Linked DNA regions of Homo sapiens: all the other regions are linked to region 1. The links come from fine-mapping of genetic effects on gene expression. A gene starts in region 1. Each other region holds a variant in brackets. All regions are shown on one strand. Distances are from middle to middle.

Region 1 (8,188 bases):
AACAACTAGATGTCTTCATTGGAATCTTCACTTGAATTTATCCTGTAGTTATTTGTGTAACTCCTTATGTTGAACACATAGCTCATTAATTTTCTGCCTTCTTTCCTTAAGACATTTAAGGCTACAAATGTTCTTTTTTTTTTTTTTCCCAAGACAGAGTCTCGCTCTGTGGCCCAGGCTGGAGTGCAGTGGTGCAATCTCACCTCACTGCAATGTCCATCTCCCAGGTTCAAACAATTCTCGTGACTCAGCCTCCAAAGTAGCTAGGATTTCAGGCGCACGCCATCATGCCCAGCTAATTTTTTTTGGTAATTTTGGTAAAGATGGGGTTTTGCCATGCTGGCCAGGCTGGTCTCAAACTCCTGATCTCAAGTGATCTGCCCACCTCAGCCTCCCAAAGTGCTAGGATTACAGGCGTGAGCCACAGTGCCGTGCCACAGATGTTCTTTGAAGTTACTGCCTTCACTACATCCCACAAGCTTTGCTGCAGTTTGGCGATGATATACTTAGATTTGCTTTGCTTTGTTGCATTTATCCATTTTGGGGTTTGTTGAGTGTATTGTATTTGTGAGTGGTTGTTTTTTTCTTTCTGTTTTAACAGCCTTAGTGAGATACAATTGACGTACTACACAATTCACCTATTTAAAGTATATTTAAGTCAGTGTTTTTTTAGTATTTAATATACTAAACCGGGTTATACAATCATTGCCATAATCCAATTTTAGAACATTTTCACATCCCCTAAAAGAAATCTTACAGTCATTAGCAGTTAATCTGTAACCTTATCTACTCCCTATCCCTAAGTAACTACTAACCTACTTTCTGTCTTTGTAAGTTTGCCTATTCTGGACATATCATATAACTGGAATTATACAATAGGTGATTTTTTTGTGACTGGCTTCTTTCACATGGCATGTTTTCAAAACTCATCGATGTCACAGCATATATCCACACTTCATTTCATTATATTGCAGAATAATATTCCACTGCATAGATATACCACACTTTGTTTATTCCTTCTTCAGTTGATGAGCATTTGGGTTGTTTACAAACTTTTTGATTATTGTGAATAATGCTGCTATGAACATTTTTGTACAAGTTTTTGTGTGGCCATATGTTTCTTTTCTCTAGAAGTGGAATTGTTGGGTAATATAGTAACTCTACATTTAGCTTTTGGAGGAACTGCCAAATTGTTTTCCTAAGGGGCTCCATCATTTTGAGTTCCTAGCGGTAATGTGAGAGGGTTCCAATTTCTCCACATGTTCAACACTTTTTCTTGTCTATCTTTTTGATTATAGCCATCCTACTTGGTGAGAAGTAGCATGTCATTGTAGTCTTGATCTGCATTTCCCTGATGACTACAGATGTTGAGCATCTTTTCATGTGATTATTGGTCATTTCCATATTTTTGAAGAAATGTCTATTCAACTTGTTTGCCCATTAACAAAAAAAGGGGGGTTGTTTTAGTTGTTGAGTTGTAAGAATCTTTGACAAATTCTGGATCTAAGTACCCTATCAAGTATGTGGTTTACAAATATTGTCTCCTATTCTCTTGTCTTTTTACTTTGTTGATAATATTGTTTGCAGCATACGTTTAATTTCTGTGCAGTCCAATTTATCTATTTTTTTTCTTCTGTCATTTATGTTTCTGTGTCATATATAAGAAACCACTGGCTAACCCAAGGTCACTAAGATTTACTCCCTTTTTTTCTTACAAGAGTTTGGTAGCATTAACTCATACATTGAGGTCTAGGATTCATTTTGAGATATTTTTTTCATCTGTGGTTTTATGTCTTTCATTACTTTTGTAAAATTCTTGGCTATTATATCTTCAAATATTGCTTCTGCTTCATTCTCTGTCTCCTCTTTTTCTAAGGCTCCAGTTATACCTATCCTGGGTTTATTCATTGTACACATGCCTATTAAGCTGTGTTCTATTTTTTCCATTTGTTTTTCTCTCTGTGCTTGAGTTTAGGTATTTTTTCTTGCTCAGTCTCCAAATTCACTAACCCTCTGTTCTGCTGTGTCCAGGTTGCTATTAAACTGATCCATTGCAATATTCCTTTCAGAAATTACATTTTTCAGTTAAATATTTTCCATTGATTCTTTTTTATGGATTTTAATACTCTTAAAATTCTGCATATTTTAATCCATCTTGTTCATGTTTTCTTCTATTTTATAACCTATGGCTTTATTTCATAATAGTTATTTTAAAGTTCTTATCTAAACTTCAATAGTTGGCTTATCTGTGGATCTTCTATTATTTTTTTTTTCTTGATTGTTGGTCAAATTTTCCTGCTCTTCTCACACCTCATAATTTTTTTTTACAAATGTTAGACTTTTATATTAAAGATCTATAGACAATATAGATGATGTTATTTTCTTCTAGGGATAAACATAGACAAATAGGATGATGTTCTGATTATCTCTGTCTAATCAAGGATGAGCTGGGTTGGGATTGGGGTGCGGTTTCAGTAAGATAGTTCTCTTGTGGTTTCTCTCTCTTCTTCATGTGTGATTCCTCTGGGCTTTTGATCAAGAGCCTGGACAGCTGCTGTTTCCTCTGCTCTGAGATTCAGTTCTGCCTTTGAGAGGTTTTAAACGTAGATCTTCAGCCTCCTTCTCATACAACTTCAAAAATAGTGTAAATGTCTTGAAGGGGGAGAATGCTTGTGTATTTGAGGCAGGATCCTTCTAAGCAGAATTAGCTTTCTATGCAGTAGAATATGGGGTAATTTTACTCTGCCTATCACGCCCAGCTGCTCAGCCTCCTGCACCACCCCAGAACTCAGCGAATGTCCTGTGGGAAAACTGGCTATATGTTTGGGGCTCCTCTATATTTCCAATCCATTTCACAGCTCACATGATGGTTAAACATCTCACTGGTTTCTCTTTTTCTGTGTAAACTCCCTCTGCCCAGGCCAAGCTGGATGAGTCTATGCCCAGAATTAGTACATGTCACCAGGGAAGAAAACAGTGGATACTGTCACTCCCTTAGTTCAGACCTCAGCAAAAGATTTATTCAATTGCACTGTAATTTTTGGGACAATGACTGAATAGGTAAAGAGGCCAAGCTAGAAGTCTAAATATGAATATCACTGTGGTCTTTGCAGGAACCTGGACAAGCAAGAAGATCATCTCAGGGTGGACAAGTGTCATTGGAGCTGGGCAGCATGAATTTTTGAGTAATACCTTATGTCCATGAGAAGTATTATTAATAGAATCCAATTCTGTTTCAGCATGGCCTTAGAAAGAGGATGGGCTATCTTTAGATGGAGTAAGTCCCCGAGGTTCTCAGACAACATAAAGGTAAAACTCAAAAGGGAAATACTAGGCTGTCTGCTACAAGATCGGGGTAAGAATCCCAGATTTGTGGCAATATGGCACCAGTTTCAAAGGTTTTATTGCACTTAATCTAATGATCAAATTAGGAGAAAAGATGAATGTTACTATAATATGTAAAAGTAGTGCTTAAGATCATTAATTTCATCTTATTTCGATGTTTTGTTCATTGAATAAACAGTAACCTAATTTAGGGACTTGGTAAAGATGACGTTCACTTTAAGAAAACTGATATAACCAAAAATAAACTAGGCTGGGGGTGGTGGCTCATGCCTGTAATCCCAGCAGTTTGGGAGGCTGAGGTGGGTAGATCACATCATGTGAGGTCAGGAGTTTGAGACCAATCTGGCCTACACGGTGAAACCCCGTCTCTACTAAAAATACAAAAAATTAGCCAGGCATGGTGGCAGGAGTCTGTAATCCTAGCTACTCGGGAGGCTGAGCCAGGAGAATTGCTTGAACGTGGGAGGCAGAGGTTGCAGTGAGCCGAGATGGTGTCATTGCACTCCAGCCTGTGCAACAAGAGCAAAACTCCGTCTCTAAATAAATAAATAAATAAACTAAAAATCTGTGGTAGGGGGAATGGTGGTAGGGAGGTAGTCACAGGATTCAGTTCAACTAATTGAGTGCTCTCATGTGCTATGCATTGTGCTAAGCACACAATAATAAAGTCCACACAAGAGAATTGTGGTGGAGAAAATAACTTGAAAAGAGCTTGAACAGAAGCAATGCAAGACTAGAAGGTGAGACATTGTTATGGGAGAGGAGGTTTTTAGCCTGTCTTTTAAAACAGAAACATCTCAATTGAGGTCTGTTTTCAAAGGAACCCCAACTGGAGGTGGGCTAAGGTGGATAAACTACATTTCTCCTCCAACTATGATTGAGTCACCATTATTAACTGTTAATTCTACCAGGTCATTTTATGGTATTATGCCTGTAAATCTTAATTCATAATTAGAAGTATACTTTTTGTTTTGGTTTCAATTCCTTTTCTGCTCTACCTCTCTCTACTTACTAGATTTGCCCCTTTTAGAACCTGGTTCAACTTGTCCTGTCTTCTTTGCTGATGGACTAATTAAATGCATGGAAGCCATAATCAATTAATCAGGCTTCAAATATGCTTTTAGTGTTCGATAGCTAGGGGAGAGGAAGACAGTAGCTATTTCAGGGGAAGTCCACGTGGGGCGTTCCAGATGGACGCGAGATGGCTATAACCGTCCCTGTCTCTCAGCCCATGTGGGCGCAGGTACAGCTGCTCCGTGCGCGCCAGTGATTGAGAGGCATTTCACCCAGGCCCAGATCTGGGGCGCCAGGCGTCCAGGCTTCCGGCCACGCCCCCTTCCCGCGGTTGCTAGGAGACATGATGTCACCGGAAGCGAGGCCTGGGATAGGCTGAGGCGAAGGGAAGCCTCACCCACTGTGCAGCCCAGGCGCCGGGCGCTGCCTCTACAGCTGTGTGTAGGCCTGGGGGCGAGGGTCTTCGGAACGTAGCGCTGGCTGCGGCCCCGCCCGCCTACCCACCCGCCCGTCCGGCAGCCGGCTCCCGCCGCCTCCGCGCTCTGTCTGGGGCCAGCCACCTGGCGGGCCGCTCCGGTGCGCCTGCCCGCGCTTTTCACTGACAGGCGCTGTTCCCCACAGCCAGCGCCGCCCGCCACGTCCCAGCTCTCGGCCAACGGAGCTGCGCGGCGGGTGACCTTTCCGAGCCCAGCGCGATGACGGCTCCTTGCTCCCAGCCGGCGCAGCTTCCTGGACGCCGCCAGCTCGGGCTGGTGCCGTTCCCGCCGCCGCCGCCGCGGACGCCGCTGCTGTGGCTGCTGCTGCTGCTGCTGGCCGCCGTGGCGCCGGCGCGCGGCTGGGAGAGCGGAGACCTGGAGTTGTTTGACTTAGTGGAGGAGGTGCAGCTCAACTTCTACCAGTTCCTCGGGGTGCAGCAGGTAAGCAAGGAGGCGCGCGGGGCCGGGCGGAGAGGGGCCAGGGCAGGCGTCAGGCGACCCGGTTCCTCAGAGACAGCCGGACACGTAGGGCAGGGCTTGGTCACCCCGGGCTCTGGCTGCCCTCAGCTCGGGTCACCGGGGTCCTCAGCCTTGGAAGGACGTGTCCGTCTTCCCCAGATCTTTACTCCTGCTTCAACTTTTCTAGTCCCAGCCCCAGTGACAGGCTGGACGGCGCCACTAGCCTAGGGTGGCGATGCCTTCTCTCTGCTCCGGCGTTCTGGGGAAGAGCCTTCCCCCTCCAGCTGTGCTGGAGGAAGAACGAAGAGTGGTGTGGGTAGACTTTTTTTTTTTTTTAATTTAACACCTACCTTTTGCCTTCCTGTCCCCCTGAATGTGAGAAAGAGCAGCCGCTTCTCACCCTAAACTGTCATCTTCCACCGATACTTACCTCATCCTTATTCTTATTTCAGCTGCCTCCCCTCCTCTTCCCTTCTGGGAAAGTAGGAATGCACTGTGGCCAGTGTCTGTGTTGCAAAAGTTTTTCTTACTTTGTACTTCGTCATCTTTTTAGCCTGTTAGGTAGATGTTTGTTTCGCTTTCGCAGTTTAGAAATCTGGAGGAATTTGAAGCGTCTAACCAGGTTGGAGGTGTTAAGTTTTTTGAGCAGCAAAGGACTTGGGATGCGATTGGAAGAGAAGCCCCCGGTCAGTAATGTAGGAATGGGTTTTTTTTTCCCCTTTTCCTTTTGTTTCATTTCGTTTTCTTCTATAGCTTAAGACATTAACTTGTAAAATCCATTTGTTGCTTTTTAGTTCTACCATTGAGGGTGGTTGAGTGAGGGTAGATATCCAGTCTCTACCTGAAGCCTTGTGCGAAGGAGAAGATAACATTTCGCTGATTTCAGGCTTATGGGGTGAAAAATGTACACTTCACACGATCTGATTGAGCCCTTCGTACAATGCTTTGAATAGTTATGGGAGTAAAAAATTAATGTTTACGATAGTTGCCATTCAAGGCACACTTCACATGACTAGATATGAAATGCACATCCCCTTCCCCCATAGGTTATCATAAATGTGGGTGAACTATTGAACTTTTACTGAATTTTAATTTTCAGACATTGCATTTTCATTCCATCAGTGAATATAAAATTGCTGGGTTGCCAGGGTACCATGAGTGAAACAATTTTTTATTTTTGTAAGAGTTATAAAGTATAGGCATTTCACACTTCAGATTCATATGTGCAAGCAACTTTGTAATAACTATATTTATGATCTGTTGCCTGGTGCCCCTCCCTGCTTATAGATACACTATATATCTCATTTTCAAAGCAAATGATGGAGTATGTGTAAAAATAATTAGTGAAGCTCTGATGACTTTTAAGAACTACTTTAATACTGGGAATAATTAGAATTTATCATTGATTACATTCTGTACGTAAAGAGAGTCTTAAACATAATCTATCCAGAAATCTTGAAGATCCAGTTATTCATGAAAAATTAAGTGCCTTTAAGAGAACAGAAATTTAGTAGCAGTTTAAAATTTAGATCATGTAATCTAGCTTTGCATGTGAACACTCATAGAATTTTCATTTATAATTTCATGTAACTTGATTTGCATAGTTAATTAGGCAGTGTGAACAACCAGAGCACTTGACTCTCTGGGCAAAGATGAGAAAATAAAGAAGCATAGATAATCAAGAAGATTCTTTGTCAAGGTAGAATCCGAAAAGAAGGATCCAGAAAATTGTTTTAACCTGTGTTTCTCTATCCAGCTGTATTAAAATTGGAAAGAATGCCAGGAGGAATTTTATTCTGTCCAAGCAGAGAAACTGAATGGAACAAGTTTTTTTCTTTACATTGAATCTTAACTTTGTTAGATGACTTTCAGGGACCAGAAATTTGGTGGAGACAAATGCAACCTGTCCAGGGTCTTTCATGTGTAGTTTTCAAGCCAGAGCCATTTGGTGACTAGCCAAACATGAGGGACCAGAACAAAGTAGGTAGGCTGCTGAAAGTGGTGACCTGGCTCTGTGCACTAATCTCTTCTTGTTCACGCAACAGAGATTTGTTTGGTGCCTATTGGATTTTAAGCATTGGGAGTTGACCTTTATATAAAACAAAACCCCTAAGCTTATAATTCAGTAGGGAGAAACAGACAGTAAACAGCCAAGTAAGTAAATATAAATGTTATATGGTCAGAGCAGGCCTCTGAGAGAAGTTAGGGAGTAAGCCATGTGGGTAATTGTTGTGTTGTAGGCCATTTGGGCTGCCATAGCAAAATGCCATGAACTGGACAGCTTTTCAACAGGAGAACTTGATTTCTCACAATTCTGGAGGCTGGGAAATCCAAGATTAAGGCACCGGCAGATTCTGTGTCTGGTGAGGGCCTTCTGGTCATAGATGGCACCTTCTTGCTGTGTCCTCACATGGTGGTACGGGCAGGGCAGCTCTCTGGGGCTTCTTTTATAAGGACACTAATCTCATCCATTAGGACTCCACCTTCGTGATATAATCACCTCACAGAGGCCCCACCTTGTATTACTGTCACAATGGGGATTAGATTTCAACATAAGAATTTCGAAGGACAAAAACATTCAGACCATAGCATGGTAGAAGGACATTCAAGGAAGAGCAGACAGTAAGCACAAAGGCCAGGAGGCAAGAGCTTGCTTAGCGTTTGAGGAATAGCAAGGCAGGCAGTGTGGCTGGAGCAGAGTGATCAAGGAAAACAGTAATGGGAGAACAGCAATAGGAGACAAGATCTGAGTCATAGGTGGTAAGGGAAGACCATGTAGGGCTTTGTAGGCCATTGTAAGGACTTCGGCTTTTACTTATAAGTAAGTTGGGGGAGGTGGTGTTTGAACAGAAAAGATACATGATTTGACTTGAATTTCAAAATGATCTCTTTAG
Region 2 (8,188 bases), 96 kb after region 1:
GATGAAAATACTTAAGACTCAAATTGGTGAAACAATTTCCCCAAAGTGACACAACTAGTTAATGGTAGAAATGAAACTGAAAGCAGATGAAAATAAATATTAAAATATAAGAAAAAAATACATAAGAAAAATAAAAACTAAAAAAGAATAAATTTCGCCCCAGGTCGATAACTAGAACTTTATAGTATAAGCTGTGTAATCTTAAACTCCCTGTCAGAATGTTCAGGCTGATTATAATTACACATTTTCCTCAACTTATCGATTGCATCCTGATAAGCCCATCATAAGGAGAAAATACCCTAAGTTGCAAATACATTAAATATACCTAACCTCCGGAAACTCATAGCTTAGCCTAGCCTACCTTAAACACGCTCAGAACACTTACGTTTAGCCCACAGTTGGGTAAAATAATCTAATACAAAGCCTATTTTATTTTTAAAAAGCGCTGAATATCCCATGTAATTTACTGAATACTGTACTGAAAGAAAAAACAAACAGAATGATTATATAGACCCTGGAAGTATGGTTTCTACTGAATGCATATCACTATCTCACCATCATAAAATGGAAAAGTTGTTCTGTTAAACCATCATTAAGTTGGGGACATCTGTAGGACATAAGTTGTAGGATTCTTACATTGAGTTAGGGCTGAATAAATGGCTTCTACAGTCTCTTCTATCTCTTGGAACAAATGGAAAAAATAGTTTTTAGGCTGTGCATCTCCTTGAATATTACAGTCTCAGACCAGAGGAAGACAGTAGCTTCTGGTTTTCTGTTTTATTTTTATTACTTTTTGTGGATTTAGTCTTATTATAGTTCTGTACAGAAATTTTGACTCTTATCAAAATGTACAATTTTACAGTTTTTCTATATTTTTCATTGTAATTTTATTGCATATTATATGTAATTCTGAGATTATAGTATAAGTCAATGGGAGAACAAAACAATATAGAGCATTTGATTTTGTGGGCAGATTTTCAGAAATGTACTTATGGTATTTTCCTACATTGAAGGTTATTTCTAAGCCTCAAACGAAAGAGAAGATTTGGGCTATCAAACAATGAAAAAGAAATAGAACATCCTCTATATTGTTTCTAGGTATCCTTCCTCATAGCTCTTCCACGTTCCTTATTCCCATCAGGACAGGTGGTATTTCCCTCCCCCTACCACTGTAAATCAATGCCTGCCCCGCCTGCCCGCCTTCCCGCCTTCCCGCCTTCCTTCCTTCCTTCCTTCCTTCCTTCCTTCCTTCCTTCCTTCCTTTCTCTCTCTTTCTTTCTCTTTTTCTCTTTCTCTTTCTTTCTCCCTCTCTCCCTCTTTCTCTCTTCCCCCCCTCTTTCTTTCTCTCTCTCTTCTTTGTCTCTTTCTCTCTCTCCATCTCTCTCTTTCTTTCTTCCTTTTCTTTCCTTCCTTTCCTTCCTCCTCTCCTCTCCTCTCCTCTCCTCTCCTCTCCTCTCCTCTCCTCTCCTCTCCTTCCTTTCTTTCCTTTCTTTTCTTGTTCTGGGCTACATGTGCAGAATTTACAGGTTTGTTACATAGGGAAACGTGTGCCATGGTGGTTTGCTTAATACCCATCACCTAGGTATTAAGCCCCATATGCATTATTAGCTATTTATCCTGAAGCTCACCCTCTTCCCACCCCACCACAGGCCCTGATGTGTGTTATTCCCCTTCTTGTGTCCACGTATTCTCATTTTTCAGCTCCCACTTATGAGTGAGAACATGCAGTGTTTGGTTTTCTGTTAGTTTAATGCCCTTGTTTCTTAAGCTTTTCTTTGGATTGCTTAATATGTTGATGTTTATATGGAGAGATAAAAGTGAACCAAAACATTATAAACAGTGCCACCTTAGCATGTTCTCTTATCACTTAATGAACTATGTCAAGAATGTTAAAGGGTGTCCGGGTGCGGTGGCTCACACCAGCACTTTGGGAGGCCAAGGTGGGCGGATCACCAGAGATCAAGAGTTCGAGACCAGCCTGGACAACATTGTGAAACGCCGTCTTACTAAAAATATAAATATTAGCCGAGTGTGGTGGCAGGCACCTGTAGTCCCAGCTATTTGGGAGACTGAGGCAGGAGAATCGCTTGAACCCAGAAGGTGGAGGTTGCAGTGAGCCGAGATCTTGCCTCTCCACTCCAGCCTGGGTGACAGAGCAAGACTCCATCTGAAAAAGAAAAAAAAAAAAGGTTTAATGTAAGGATATTCCCTATCTCACAGCTTACTAATCTTGGAAATATTGTATCTTCAGGCTTAACTAAATTATCATCATTATGAAGCCTTCCTTCATCAGGCCAACTGAAAAATTCTCATTGTATGTTCTCCATACTAACTTTACAGCATTTACTATTTGTATTAATCACGGTAGACTGATAGACCTTAGTCTGTTTCTGGCATATGCCTCATGTCTGTCACTGGTTGATAGGAAAGTGGGCATTCTGGTCTACCTAACCATTCAGGAGCTCAGAGCAATGATGTGTTCACCACCTTCTTAGCTGTATCCATCTGGAACATGTGGCCTCCTTGCTCATTATGACAAGAGGAGAGAGCTGGAGGATTTGCATGAGTTTTTCTGTGAGTTGGTTTGGAAATGACACATGATATTTCCATCCACAGCCCATCCAGAACTAGTCTTCTGACCCCACCTAATCTTAAGAGGACAGCGGAATATAGGGAAACAGAATGTTGAGTGAGCACCACTTTCTTTGCCAGTAATTCATTCAACAAACTTTATTTATTGATTGCATTATTTACTTTGTGCCGGGGCAGGGGTAGGGGGTGAAAGACAACAATTCCTGTTCTCACAGAGCTTATATTCTATATTCCATATTTTAGTTAATATTTATAGTTATTTTTACATATTCCTTAAGGGAAACTGTTGTATCTTATATAATCACCACATATCCTAATAATGTACAATACATATAATAATGGTTCAATAAATAAGCATAAATATCCCTGTTTAATGTCTTCTTGTGCAGGAGCCTATGCTCTATAATTACGTACAAAGAACACTCATACATTATTTAAGTTAGCCATAGTTTAAATGTAAAACCTGTCCCCTGTTTGATGTCTATGAAGGCAGGTTTTGAGCTCTTCAGGAAATCTTAAATATTGGCCAGGGGCGGTGGCTTACGCCTGTAATCCCAGCACTTTGGGAGGCCGAAGCAGGCAGATCACCTGAGGCCAGGAGTTCAAGACCAGCCTGGCCAACATGGCAAAACCCCGTCTCTACTAAAAAATACAAAAATTAGCCAGACGTGGTGGTGGGCACCTGTTATCCCAGCTACTTGGGAGGCTGAGGCAGGGATAATTGCTTAAACCCGGGAGGCGGAGGTTGCAGTGAGCTGAGATCATGTCACTGCACTCCAGCCTGGGCGACACAGCGAGACTCTGTCTTGGGGAAAAAAAAAAAGAAAGAAATTTTAAGTACTAATACAGTTGCTTCTAGAATAAAAACTTTTGCTCATGGTTCCATTCATAAGGATTATAAACTCCTTGAGAATAGGAGTTCTTTCTGTTTGGAAAAATGTAAACTCCATAATTTTAATACAGTATTATGAGGCAGGCAGTTCAGAGCCCTAATCAATTGAAGTAAGCATTTAATTATTCATTAAATATTTATTAAGCTTCTGTAAGTGCCAGGCAGTGTACTAGGGCTATAAGGATGGATTAGAAGTTTATATCCCCAGGAAATCTAACTTTCTGTGTAGGTAAACTGGAGTTTACTCTGGACCCAAATAAGTTTTTGTGCTTATTTTTCCCATTAAACGATTTTATTATAATTTTATTCACTTGAATTCACCCCCCCCCCATGAAAAATGGGAGGGAAAAAAGGTTGAAAACAATTTATCTTATTCATCCTCTTTTGAATGCTTGGATTCAAAAGCATACCTTACAGAATAGCCATACCTTAGAACATACCTTAAAGAATAGCCACGTGGTTTCTTCTTGAATACTATCTCCAAAATCAGCCGATTTCATTTTCAGGTAATTTTAATTATTAGGAAATTCTTATATATATATATATATAAAATATATATATATATTTTCTCTATATTATATATATTTTATATATATTATATATAATATATATTTTATATATATAATATATATTTTTATATATTATATATTATATATTTTTATATATTATATATTATATATTTTTATATATTATATATTATATATATATTTTATATATTATATATATTTTATATATAATATATATTTATGTATATTATATTATATATATTTATATATTATATTATATTATATATTTATATATATTATTATATATAATATATTTCATATATATTTCATATATTTCAGACAGAGTCTCACTCTGTGGCCCATGCTGGAGTTCAGTGGTGTGATCTTGGCTCACTGCAACCTCCACCTCCCAGGTTCAAGCAATTCTCTTGCCTCAGCCTCCTGAGTAGCGGGGATTACAGGTGCCTGCCACCACACCTGGCTAATTTTTTGTATTTTTAGTACACAT[G/C]GGGCTTCACCATGTTGGCCAGGCTAGTCTTGAACTCCTGCCCTCAAGTGATCCGCCCACCTGGGCTTCCCGAAGTGCTAGGATTGCAGGTGTGAGCCACCACACCTGGCTTCTTCCTCATATTGATCCAAAGTCAAAACTTTCATCTCTGGAATCATATGCAGTAGTTTACAACATTCTTGCCTGTAATAAACCTTGAGATATTGTATGGTAGTTATGAAGTTATCCCCAGTCTTCTTATCTCTAATCCCTTATAAAAATAGAGTTTCAAGCTGCCTCCCTATTTAATCACTTTCCTTTTAAAGTCTTTCTATTTGTCAGTGCATCTTAAAGTGTGATACCCCAAACTATACACAGGGATGGTTGAAACAATGTAGAGTTGTTTAGTAAAGTAGAATTGCTTGAGTTCATAGATTGTTAAGGAAGTAATGTTTCCTGGAGTGGGCATATTGTAATTTGATTTCAAAGCATAGGTAAGATATGAAAAAAAAAAAACATGAGGAATGTTTAAATAAATGCTTAGAAATGGAGCAAAAGGAAGATAAAAATAGTGACTGAAACTAGGGAATGTAATGAAAGTCTCAGATTAAGTAGAGTAGGTTAGGGTGATTGGGTGGATTGCAGTCCTCAGATAAGTGAGGATTTGGATTAAATGTGTATTTCAAAGAGGAAGTTTTAGTGGGATTATGTCCCATAGCAGGAAGAAGAAACATTAACAGGGAAAATGTTCAAATTTGGCAGGACTACTAGGGAGAGGTTGCTATTATACAGCAAAATGAAGTGAGAAGGATGCAATTAAAAAGGTCACATAAGCAAGAAGATACAGGATTTGGCAGGGGAATTTTGGTGAAGTATGAAGCACAAAACTCATCCTTTGTGTTGGAAAACAAGATCCTTGTCAAATTGGTAGAAGTAATAATAAAAATAGCTAACATACATATAAGGCCTAACTGTGTAGAAGATATCATTCTAACTGTTTCCCAGGTATTAACACATTTAATCTTCATAACAGTCCTATAAGTTAGGTACTTTTGTTATCCCCATTTTATGAATGAGAAAATGGACCCACAGAGAAGTAAAATAATTTTCTGAATGTCACATAGCTAGTAAGATGGCAGAGCTGAGTTCTTAATTCAGATAGTCTGGCTCCAAATCTGTCCTCTTAATCACCATATTTCACTGTGCTATACTGTGATGATTGATTTCAGCCTACTTTCTTTTACCTCTCATAAATAACTAATCTGTGCCCTTCTTTTCTTGCATGTGCCACATTTCCTACTCCCCTCAAGGAGCCAATGCCTTCCTGACCTTTTCTTCTTCCCTACTATTAAAACCTACTCTGTGGAAAGAAGCTAATAAGCTCATTCATTCATTCACACCAAGGTATAAATGACTCATATGGCTTAATATAAAATAATACTTCTTTAGGGTTGACTTTTTTTAAGGGGGGTGGGGAATGTTAAGGGCTATAAAACCTTAACCCAAAACCCTGTTGAAACTTAAACTATATATGGGCATGGGAGGATGAGTAAGTTGGTTGCATGGCCATCTGTGCTCTTCTAGTAGTACCATTGTTTACCTGGCCTAGGGCTTGTGTGAATCCTCATAGAAATGAGGTAGGAACATAAAAGTGGGGATGAAAAGAATTAAGAGATCTTTTACTATATTAACAATACATCTGTATTGTATTGATTCAATGATTTTAGGAATACCAAATTCTTATTAGGTGGAAGAGTTCTGATAGAACCCCAAGAGACACAGACCCCCAGGAAAAAGCTTTAATTTGGACACAGTCGTAGACGAAAAGAGTTTCTAGGGTTTAAGTATTTATGTATTTACATCTGAGTCAAAGTAGTGTCAAAGATTTTGTTCCTTTATTTCTTGCAGAAATAAAGCTCTCTCAGATGGGTCTATGATTTATCTGCTCTAGGAATCTTATGGTCTGAGAATGTTACCCTAGAGTTATTCTTGAAACCCTTCTTTTTCTTATTTCACCTTAGTTAGTCATCAGGCCCCTTCATTTCTTGCTTTATTAGGTTTCTCACATATTTCAGTCTAGTTCAATTCGGTAAATACTTATTGAGTACCTGCTTTATGGCAGATACTGTGCTCTGGGCATGTAAGTATCCCTTTCTCAATTTCTCATCTGGAAGAGAATATAACATGATACAAGCAGTTATAGACATGTTTAAATATAGAAGTAGTGTACAAGGGAGAATTACACTGCCAGAGAAGGTCAGAAAAACTTGCAAAGGAGATGGGGCTTGAATGGGTTTTCAGGGATTAATAAGAGTTCATCAGAATAATGCCAGGGAAGTACAATATTGTAGCCAGAGGGCAAAGCAATTGCACAGACATGGAAGCACAGTGTGGGCTGGCAGCTGTTAATACAAGTGGTATTCCTATAGACTATCTGAGGTTTGAGCCAAGGAGTGTGGTAAAAGATCTGTTTTGCTTATTTTCATTGTCGGGATCTCATATGCCTAGAGCATCAGCTTGTTTATTTTTATGTATGTCATTATTTAAGACCTAGGTTTTTTTTTTTTTTGGTACACCACTAAAGCCTTACCTGTGTGCCACTCATTGAGACTTCAGTCACTGTATCTTGACACCTAAGTATATGTATGCAGTATGTGTCCTCAGTCCTCAATCCTCAAGACTTCATGGTAATGGTTTTTATACTCGTCTCTAAGGGTGGTAAAAGGAGGAGTGGCACCTTTCACTTTTATATACATGCTCGTATAAGTTTTATAATCAGATTTGAAGATAATTTTGAATATCTATTGTAGTTAAAGGGCTAATATGAAAATAGCAGTAGTACTTTGTTAGTCACAGTAATATAATTTACTGTGCCAAATCAGTTCAGCAAATGAGTTTTTCTGCTCTCTGTATATGCAACAGTATATTATGAAAATAGCATACAATGGAAGAAAACAGGAAGAGGATACCTCCTTTCCATATCTGAGAGAAAAAATAGTTTAAAATTATACTCATAAAATTTCTCATTGTAACTGGCTCTCCAGGAGAGAAAAATCATAGAGAAATGTTTAATTTCTGCTCATCATAAAATTTGAAAACAAAAAGAAAGCCTACTTATAAAATGAATATAATGCTTTAAAGTTAAGTTACATGGAAAATATTATTGAAGCACACTGATTTTTATGTTAATTTATGTATAACTTTTTTTCTTAAGGATGCTGGGCAGTTTTATGCTAAATATAAAGAAACAAGATTGAAGGAAAAGGAAGATGCACTGACTAGAACTGAACTTGAAACACTTCAAAGTGAGTTTTAAACATTAGTGTTTTAACAATGTCATATAAAATTAATTATTTAAATGTGAATTATCTTTTAAATTCAGCAGTAATTAAATTTTCTGGTTTTCTTTTTTTTTTTTTCCCACTCCCTAGTGGAGTCACTTGTACTTAATGTATTTGACATGGAACATCCTACATTATAGCATTACTTTACCACCCAAAGTTTGATATCAGAAGGAAGGATAAAATCAGCTTGAGTCATGTAACTCCTCAAATCTAGGGGCATCCAAAGTCTGCAAAGCCCTAAAATACTTCAGTACTATAATTACAGTTGATATTTAGTGCTAGTTTAACCAGTTAATCACCCAACTTTCTGTGTAACAGTTGTAGTTAGGAAACCTGAAAATACCAATGATTTTTGTTTTGAAAGTTT
Region 3 (8,188 bases), 33 kb before region 1:
AGAGAGAGAGAAAGTCCTTTGTAGATTGATATGAAAAATCTCCAAGATTTATGGTTAAGTAAAAAATAATAAGTTGCACAACAGTGTGTATAGTATGCTATAGTTTCTGAAAAAAAGAAAAAGGGAAAACTACATGTATCTGTTTTTACATACACACATTAGCTCTGGAATGATTTGGAAAAATACATGAGAAATATACATTGCTTGTTTCCAGGTGGCAGAACTCCATGCCTAGGTGACTGGGTATGTTTTTTGTAACTTCGAATTTTTGAACCATGTGAATGTATTACCTAATCAAAATTGAAAAGATAGGAAAAAAAAGAAATACACCAAAATGTTAATTATCTTTTGTTGAGTAGCATCTGAGCAACCTTTATTCTCTTTTCATGTTGGTCAATATTTTCCTAACTTTCTACATGCTGTGCGTTACTTTTATAACAAGGAAAGAATTTTAAGAATAAAAATAATCATGCCTGATCATTTATTTACCAGTTGAGTCCCTTTTCCTATGTTCTAAGCATAATTTCTGCTGAGGAATGGAAAGAAAGATTGTGGATTTAAAAGATGTATGCTTGGCTGGGCACGACGGCTCATGCCTGTAATCCCAGCACTTTGGGAGGCCAAGGTGGGCGGATCACGAGATCAGGAGATTGAGACCATCCTGGCTAACATAGTGAAACCCTGCATGGTGGCACTTGCCTGTAGTCCCAGCTACTCCCAAGGCTAAGGCAGAAGAACCACTTGAACCCGGGAGGGAGGAGTTGCAGTGAGCCGAGATCGCGGCACTGCACTCTAGCCTGGTAGACTGGGTGACAGAATGAGACTCCGTCTCAAAAAAAAAAAAAAAAAGATGTATGCTCTTCTACCTTTCTTAACATTGCAAATTAAGAACAGAATACCATCTGTTTTATTTTCTCCCAGCTAAACAATCTAAATCATTCTAATTTTTTGCTTTACTATCTCTAAAGGTAGGTTACAACTATGTATGAAACACAGTACTAAGGCATCTTCACTTTCTTTGTGTCCTCACTTGCCTCAGATCTCCACTTTATTTTGACGAAGTTCTAGACCAAGGAATAATCTAAATATATTCACAATTTTTCCCTTGCACATTAAATCATATGATGATATGTTATTACACCCACATTTTAAAACTTTAAAATTTATGTGAATTTATCTTCTTAGCACTGGGCCATTGTGACTGATTAATATATTTTAATTAATGTGTTTTAATTTTAATTAATGTATTTTAATTATCCTCACATAATAAAATTTGACAAAAAATTATTGTTCTAAGTAACTTAAATCACTTATTTATACAGATACTCCATTTGGCATATGAAGTCTTTGAACTGTAGTTACAGAGGTGACAGTTTAGCCAAATGGCTAGGAGTCCTGCCTTCTTATTTATTTATTTTATTTATTTGTTTATTGGGGAGGGGTACGGGGGCTGGTAAGACAGGGTCTCACTGTGTCGCCCAAGCTGGTCTCAAACTTCTGGCTTCAAGCAATCCTCCCACCTCAACCTCCCAAAGTCCTGAGATTACAGGTGTGAGCCACCATGTCCAGTCTGAGTCCTGCCTTCTTAAGGGAGGCTATGGACAGGCTAGTCCAAGTGGACACATGTAGAAACTTCCTTCCCTCTGAGACCTTGAGAGAGATGAGGGTATAATGCCCAGTGTTGGCAGAGAATTCTGAGGTTCAGAACATCAACATGGTCTCGTCAGTGGTGGAATTACTGCCATAATTAGTAGAACAAGTTGTCTATGCTTGCTGAATGCCAACATGACTGGTGGTATAAAGGCAGCAAGCACACAGTTTGATGCACCTCCAACCAGGCAAATATCTCCTTCAGAGCTTGCCCAGCCCTTGGAGCCTCTAGCACGTCTCCACAAAAAATAAGGAAGGCGCCAGCTGCTACATCCGCTCGCCTGAACACTTATCTCAACATCTTCTGCACCTTGCCACTGGGGCAAACCTAAATAAAAGCTGCTCCAGACTAATCAAAGTCAAAATTCTCACCCATTGTCATCCCAGAACCAGACTGTGTCGTCTGGTCCAGCCCATTCTTAAGTTTAGAAGCCAGAAACCACACCCTGTGGAGTTAGATCATGAACGTGAATTCTAAAATCAGGCAGATCTGAGTTGAATTGGGATTCCCACCACTTACTCTTTTGGTGACCTGAAAAAATTACTTAATGTCTCTGAACCTCCGTGTTCTTTTCCATAAAATCGGAATAATAATGTTTACCTCATGATATAGTTGGGAAATTAAATGTATTTGTATAAAGTAGGACATCCTTCTTAATAGTCAGTATTTCATTAGTTACTTTCCTACCTGGTGGTTAAATTGTAGAGCAGTGTGAATCCTAGAATTAAAAAAACTAAACATATATATTTTATTTAAAGTATTTTTCGTACTTGAACCTGAATAGTGATAACGTTTAGCTGATTGCCACCAATTCTACAACTTTACTTTCAGTTCTGTCTCTTTCTTTCACAAATTATTTTTCTAATGTTTATTGCTCTGTTTTTAGAAGTTTAAAAAAAGAATACATAGAGAACACCTTTTAGTTTCTAAATATAATATTACACTGGCAACCCTTTTTAAAACTGAGTTTGGAGTTGTATTTATTTTCACATTTTCCGAAAATACTCTTCTATTGTGATGTAAAACAAACAAACAAAAATTCAAACCCCAGTTATCTCTTCCTGTAATCAGGTAAATAAAATAGGCTTCTGAGCGACATACAAAAACATACTAAAATATTAATAGGACTGTTTTTCAGATCTGGTTCTTCAAAAGCTAACTAAGGTCAGTTTCCCTGGGAAACAGACTGAAATGGAGATTTACGTACAGTCATTTGTTGAGGAGGGCCCTGGGCCCCAACACCTGTGGGAAAAGTGAAGGAAATAGGATTGGGCTGTGGGAGAAGCAGAGATGTGGTACAACCCCACAGGCAGCTCTGGAGCTGGGAGGGCCCTTTAGAGTTCTCCTGACTTGAGTTAGTCAGTATGGTTCCACCTTGTCAAGTCCTCCTCCTCTATAGGCTGTTCCAGGAAGGAAGGTAGACGGCTCAGCTGAGGGCAATTCCCAGAGAGGATGCCACTGAGAGCTGGGGAGTGGTGGGGATGGTAGGGGTGCCTGACTATTGACCACAACATCCACTGCATGCTTAAAATATATTCAGACTTTCTTAAACTCATATTTTAGGTGTGTATTGCAAACTAATGTCTACGGAAGAGTTAACAGCAACAACCAAATTCAAGGCAGAGTACTTTTTAAAATCGTCAAGAAGAAAATGAAAAGAGAATAAAATACTTGTTCATTGGCATGGAAACAGCCTTGCAGTGAGCAACATAATTGTTTACCATGCCAATTATTTATAAAACAAGAATATTTCCAAATATACATAGCCCTCTTACTATTGTGCTGGTTTTATTAGTGTATGTCTTGAATATTTAACATTAGAATTACATAACTCGCCACTCCCTAATGCCCCAGAAGAGAAGCATAGATTTGATACACATAGCTTCATGTCCAAGGATTATTCATGTAGAATCTCCGACAGTCAAAAGACATGAGGCTTTCAGTGACTGGTGAGGTATTCCATGGTCCAAGAGAGATGAACTTGGGCTAAACCCTCTTGAGGGAATGTATCACTTTCTTAAATTCATACTAAAGAAAAGCAAGGAGGAAAAGCAAGGGGTGGGGGAAGCAGGAATGAAAATCTCTTTTCAATGGAATGTCAATTAATAAATGCAGAAGGAATCAC[A/T]GAGTTAGAAAACCTACCATTTTGCAACCATCATGGTAATTATTTGTGAAAAAAAGTCCATCAATGGATGCTAAAGCTATTGGTTGGTAGTTTAAGGGGAGCAGGATTTTTACATAATCTCAAAGTATCTCCTTAGAGATTATTAACTACAGAGAAGAACACAGGAACCACAGGGAAGAAATCTGGTAGTCTCCACCTTAACTGAATTTGATTCACCTTAACATCACCAATAATGGGAACCAGGTTTATTTGTGATGCACCAAAAATTATGTCATCATTAATGTAAAATTCCTATCAAAATGTATAATCTTCCATTTAAACATGAGAAAACAATCAAGCAGACCCAAATGTAAAAACAAGCTACAAAATAACTGGCTTTCATTCTTCAAAACTGCCAATGACAAGAAAACAAAGAAAGGTTCAGGAATTGTTCCAGATTAAAGGAGATCAAAGTACATGATTACTAAATACAATGCATAATCCTGATCTGGCTCTTGAATTATGAAAAAAATTGCTATGAAGGATATTGTTAAGACATTTTGAAAAACTTAAACATGGAAGTTACCATAGATAAAAGTAGTATGTCAATGTTAAGTTTCCTGGATTTTATTATAGTCTAATAATGTAAAAGAATGTTCTTATTCTGAAGAAGTATATACTGAAGTATTTAGGGATTAATGTTTATGGTCTCTGTAACTTAATATCTCATTAAGTTCAGCTTAATAATATTGACACTATTAATATTAATTAATGTATGTACACATAAAATAGAGTGATAAATGTGGCCAAATGTTAACACTTGGTTAATTTAGAAAAAAAGTATAAAAAGTTAAAAATAGGTGAAGATATAGATATATTCTAGCTCTGCCCACTGAAATGGCCTGGGAGTAATCTAACACCTTCAATACAAACTGGATCTCTTCCTCTAGGGTCTGGAATTTGGTCCTTAATACCATTTTCCATTACATGTACCCAGAATCCTTGGGAAAAATGACTGATTCTGTGTCTGATGCACAGAAGGTATAATATAAGTCTGGGATACCTTATCAGGTCAGAAAGAAAGAAAATTTTCATATTATAAAGCTGGGTCCAAAGGACTCAATAAACAGCTAAAACAATTAAACATTGGCTAGGATAAAACAATTAGAACATCAAAGAAAATGATATATATGTGAAATAGGTTTTATAGAAAAATTCACGAATTCATAATAGTACTCAAGAAAGAATATTTAGCATTAAGTTTAAAAAAAGAAAGTAATTACTCTAGAATACATGACTGTTGAAACATATTACTTGACTTACCTTGTTATCACATTAGTATTATTGACTCATTTATTGAATCAGTGAAGGAAGATCTGGGTTGATAGTTTTCTTTTTTCTTTTAGTGCTTTAGCAATGTCACTTTATTGTCAATTGGTCTGCATAGTTTCTGACTAGAAGTCTGCTATAATTTTTACCTTTGTTCTGTACATAATGTGTATTATTTTTCCTCCAGCTGTCTTCAAAGTTTTTCTCTTTTTTGTTGGTTTCTGGCAATTGAACATGACGCTTATGTATCTGTGATTCCTGTTTCATTTTGTTTTCTTATATATACTGACTTGTGTTCATTGAGACTCCTAGAGTGTTGATTTGGTATCTCATTAATTTTGGAAAATTCTCAGCCATCATTTCCATATACTTATTCTGCCCTGTTCACTCACTCTTCTTCTTCTGGGGTTCCAAATAGATGTTTGATTTTTTCCCCCACAATGCTTGCATGCTCTACATTTTCTTTTTTGCTCCCTTCTTTGTGTTTTATTTTGGGAAATTTTTATTAAATCATCTTCACATTTAGTGATTATTTAACTGAGTCTGCTGATAAACCTCTCAAAGGTATTCTTCATCTCTGTTAACATGCTACCAATCATTTCCATTTCATTTGTTTTTATAATTTTTATGTCTTTACTGAAATGACTATCTGTCATCGAGGCTGAGGTGGAGTGGCACAATCATAACTCATTGCAGCCTCAAACTTTTGGGTTCCATCAATCCTTCCACCTCAGCCTCCCAGGTAGCCATGACTACAGGCACAAACCACCATGCCTGGTCCACCACTCTATCAATCCAGCTGCTTCAGGATGATGGTGAACACCTGGCTAATTTTTAATTTTTTTTTTCTTGTAGAGACAGGATCTTGCCATGTTGACCAGGCTGGCTTCAAATTTCTGGCCTAAAGTGATCCTCCCACCTCAGCTTTCCAAAGTGCTGGGATTACAGGAATGAGCCACTGTGCCTGGCCAGTCATCACTATCTTTAATTCCCTGACTGATAATTCCAACATCTGTGACATATCTGAGCCTAGTTTTGTTGACTGTTTTGTTTCTTCACAGGGTAGTGTTTCTTATTCTTCTACTGAAAAAGACATCATGTGCAGGGCAGTAGAGACTGAGGTAAACACTATTTATGCCTGGAAATAGGCATACCTCATCTTTACTAGGCAATTGGTTTGGGGAGCTGAGTCAATCTAGTCGTGAGATAGCCTAAGTTTAAGTTTTGTCATTACTACAGTTATTTTCAATGTGCCACTCTCAATTTTAAATCCCTCCGGAATTAACTTGGGTTTAGGGTGTGGGTTTGGGGGCTGATTTACCAGAGGGTTTTTGTTTGTTAGTAATGACAGCTGCAGCCTCAGCTTCAGATTTTCTCTTTGTGCCTGTGTATCAGGGAAGATCTCTTTCCATTCTCATGAACTTCCCTCAGAAGTTGGCTGTTGGTCAGCATGTACTAGCCTTGTAGTGAGGGACATTTTCTATTGTTCCAGTTCAACTGTAGTCTTAGGCAGGAGCTGTAAATCCGGGTGTCTACACGAGTCCTCCTATCCCTCTCGCATCTGGAAGAAACCTCTAACGGGCCAAACCCAAGATATATTTCTGTCCCTACCCCAAAACTAAAGTTGTTTGGTTTTTTTTTCTGTTCCACTCCACCAACTGCAATAGATCATCACCTACCATAGCCAGATAGGGCAGGCTTCCTTTACTCGCTTTCTATCAGTACAAAACTTTCTTCACTAGGTAATTTGTAATAACTGGTCCTATTATATATTAATAGATAATGCATGCATTTGAAAATCCCTGATCTCTTAAGAAATCCTGGCACTCAAATCTCTCTGTCTGTCTGTCTGTCTCTCTCTTTCAATTCAAAAAAGAAGTCATCCTTAGGACATGAAGCTGGGAAATGCCCTATTTGTTCTCTACCTGTGGTCTCTTTCCCTGAGATGATTAGGCTTATGGCTCAAACTCGGAGATGGATGGGATGTCATTTAGAGAGGTTTGATATTTTAAAGTGGTGTCTTTATAATAATTATATAGAAAAGCAAGGCAATGAAACAACCGTTGGAACCACAAAATGAACAATTAAACTCTTGGCAAATCAGAAAAGCAAAGCAAGAGTAATGAATTACTGAACACTACACAATACAGAGCTTGGGTGTAGCCAGACTGTTCTTAGAGCAGCTCTCAATTCAAGGCAATAGATCCCCTTTGATACATCCAGGGATTTCCAATAGGTGAGAAAATGACCATAAAAGCAGAGAGGCTTGAGAAAGAATAACACCATGGCTGTGAAATGCCCTTTGGCATGGGACAGCGTGGCTAAGAACAGACTGAAATTTATGCAGGGTTTAACTAAAATGAATACTGAGCTGGATGCATAATTGGCAAAGCCCAGTGCAAAATGAAAATGCAGGACTTGTTCAAAAAGCAAGAGAGAAACGTACCATAAAAGATGGTAAAATACTATAAAGCTTTTCCTTTCTTCTGCAGTCTCGCTCTCTCAACAGGCCATGGTGCTTTTTATTTTGTCACTTTAAGTAAAGAAAACATCACTTTAAGTAAAGAAAAATTAAAATTGTAAATTATTATCATGGTTTAGCATTCATCTTTATATTGTGCATAGCCGGTTTCAATATAAATATAAGAGCATTTAATTCGTATGCAGAATTGCTGAACTTACACAATTTGTATTTTGTAGTTCTCACACGCCTATGTATTTTGTTCTTAACAGAACAACACCATACAAAATTGACTCAACTGTTGTTATTTCACTTCTTAATGCCTGCATGTTCTACCAACACTTTCTACTTTTGACTTACTGACGTTAAGAAGAACTGAAAGGAAAAGGAGCTATCTTTCCCTTTCTTGTACATCATCCTTTTCAGCAAAAGTAGTTGACTCACATGGAGAAGTAACACAAGTAAGGTAGGATATCATAGAGTTAGTCAGTTATTTGTGTTGCTTGGAACACTACAGCCTTCTTTCAGGATTCAAAGTGAGGCAAGGTTTGAACACAAAGCTTGGCTTCCCAGGGCTGCCAGTGCCCAGCTCACTCAGTCAAGACATATAAAACGCTTACTTATATGTGCTTTGAGTCTCACA

Direction of the effects. Alleles are on the strand shown, and positions count from the first base shown. SD is a standard deviation of normalised expression in the study named. Not every link is listed here.
For the expression in testis of the gene that starts at base 4,759 in region 1, G is the low allele of the variant in region 2 and C is the other (moderate effect, 0.47 SD a copy in GTEx).

The links. PIP is the estimated chance that this variant, and not a neighbour inherited with it, causes the effect.
Region 2: its variant is the best candidate, but not a certain one, in a credible set for the expression of DNAJC1 in testis (GTEx, PIP 0.55).
Region 3: its variant is the best candidate, but not a certain one, in a credible set for the expression of DNAJC1 in whole blood (TOPMed, PIP 0.53).

Annotation. Positions count from the first base shown.
Region 1 is chr10:22,000,301-22,008,488 of GRCh38, reverse strand. DNAJC1 (DnaJ heat shock protein family (Hsp40) member C1) reads left to right here and starts at 4,759. Exons shown (of 12, transcript NM_022365.4): 1 at 4,759-5,276. The coding sequence starts at 5,055. RefSeq lists enhancers at 4,506-4,635, 4,666-4,715, 4,595-5,095 and a silencer at 4,756-5,125.
Region 2 is chr10:21,904,116-21,912,303 of GRCh38, reverse strand. DNAJC1 (DnaJ heat shock protein family (Hsp40) member C1) reads left to right here. Exons shown (of 12, transcript NM_022365.4): 7 at 7,692-7,782. Among named protein-coding and RNA genes, the nearest start is that of DNAJC1, 96 kb to the left of the region's middle. The variant G/C (reference allele first, on the strand shown) is at 4,499.
Region 3 is chr10:22,033,762-22,041,949 of GRCh38, reverse strand. No RefSeq gene overlaps it. Among named protein-coding and RNA genes, the nearest start is that of DNAJC1, 34 kb to the right of the region's middle. The variant A/T (reference allele first, on the strand shown) is at 3,777.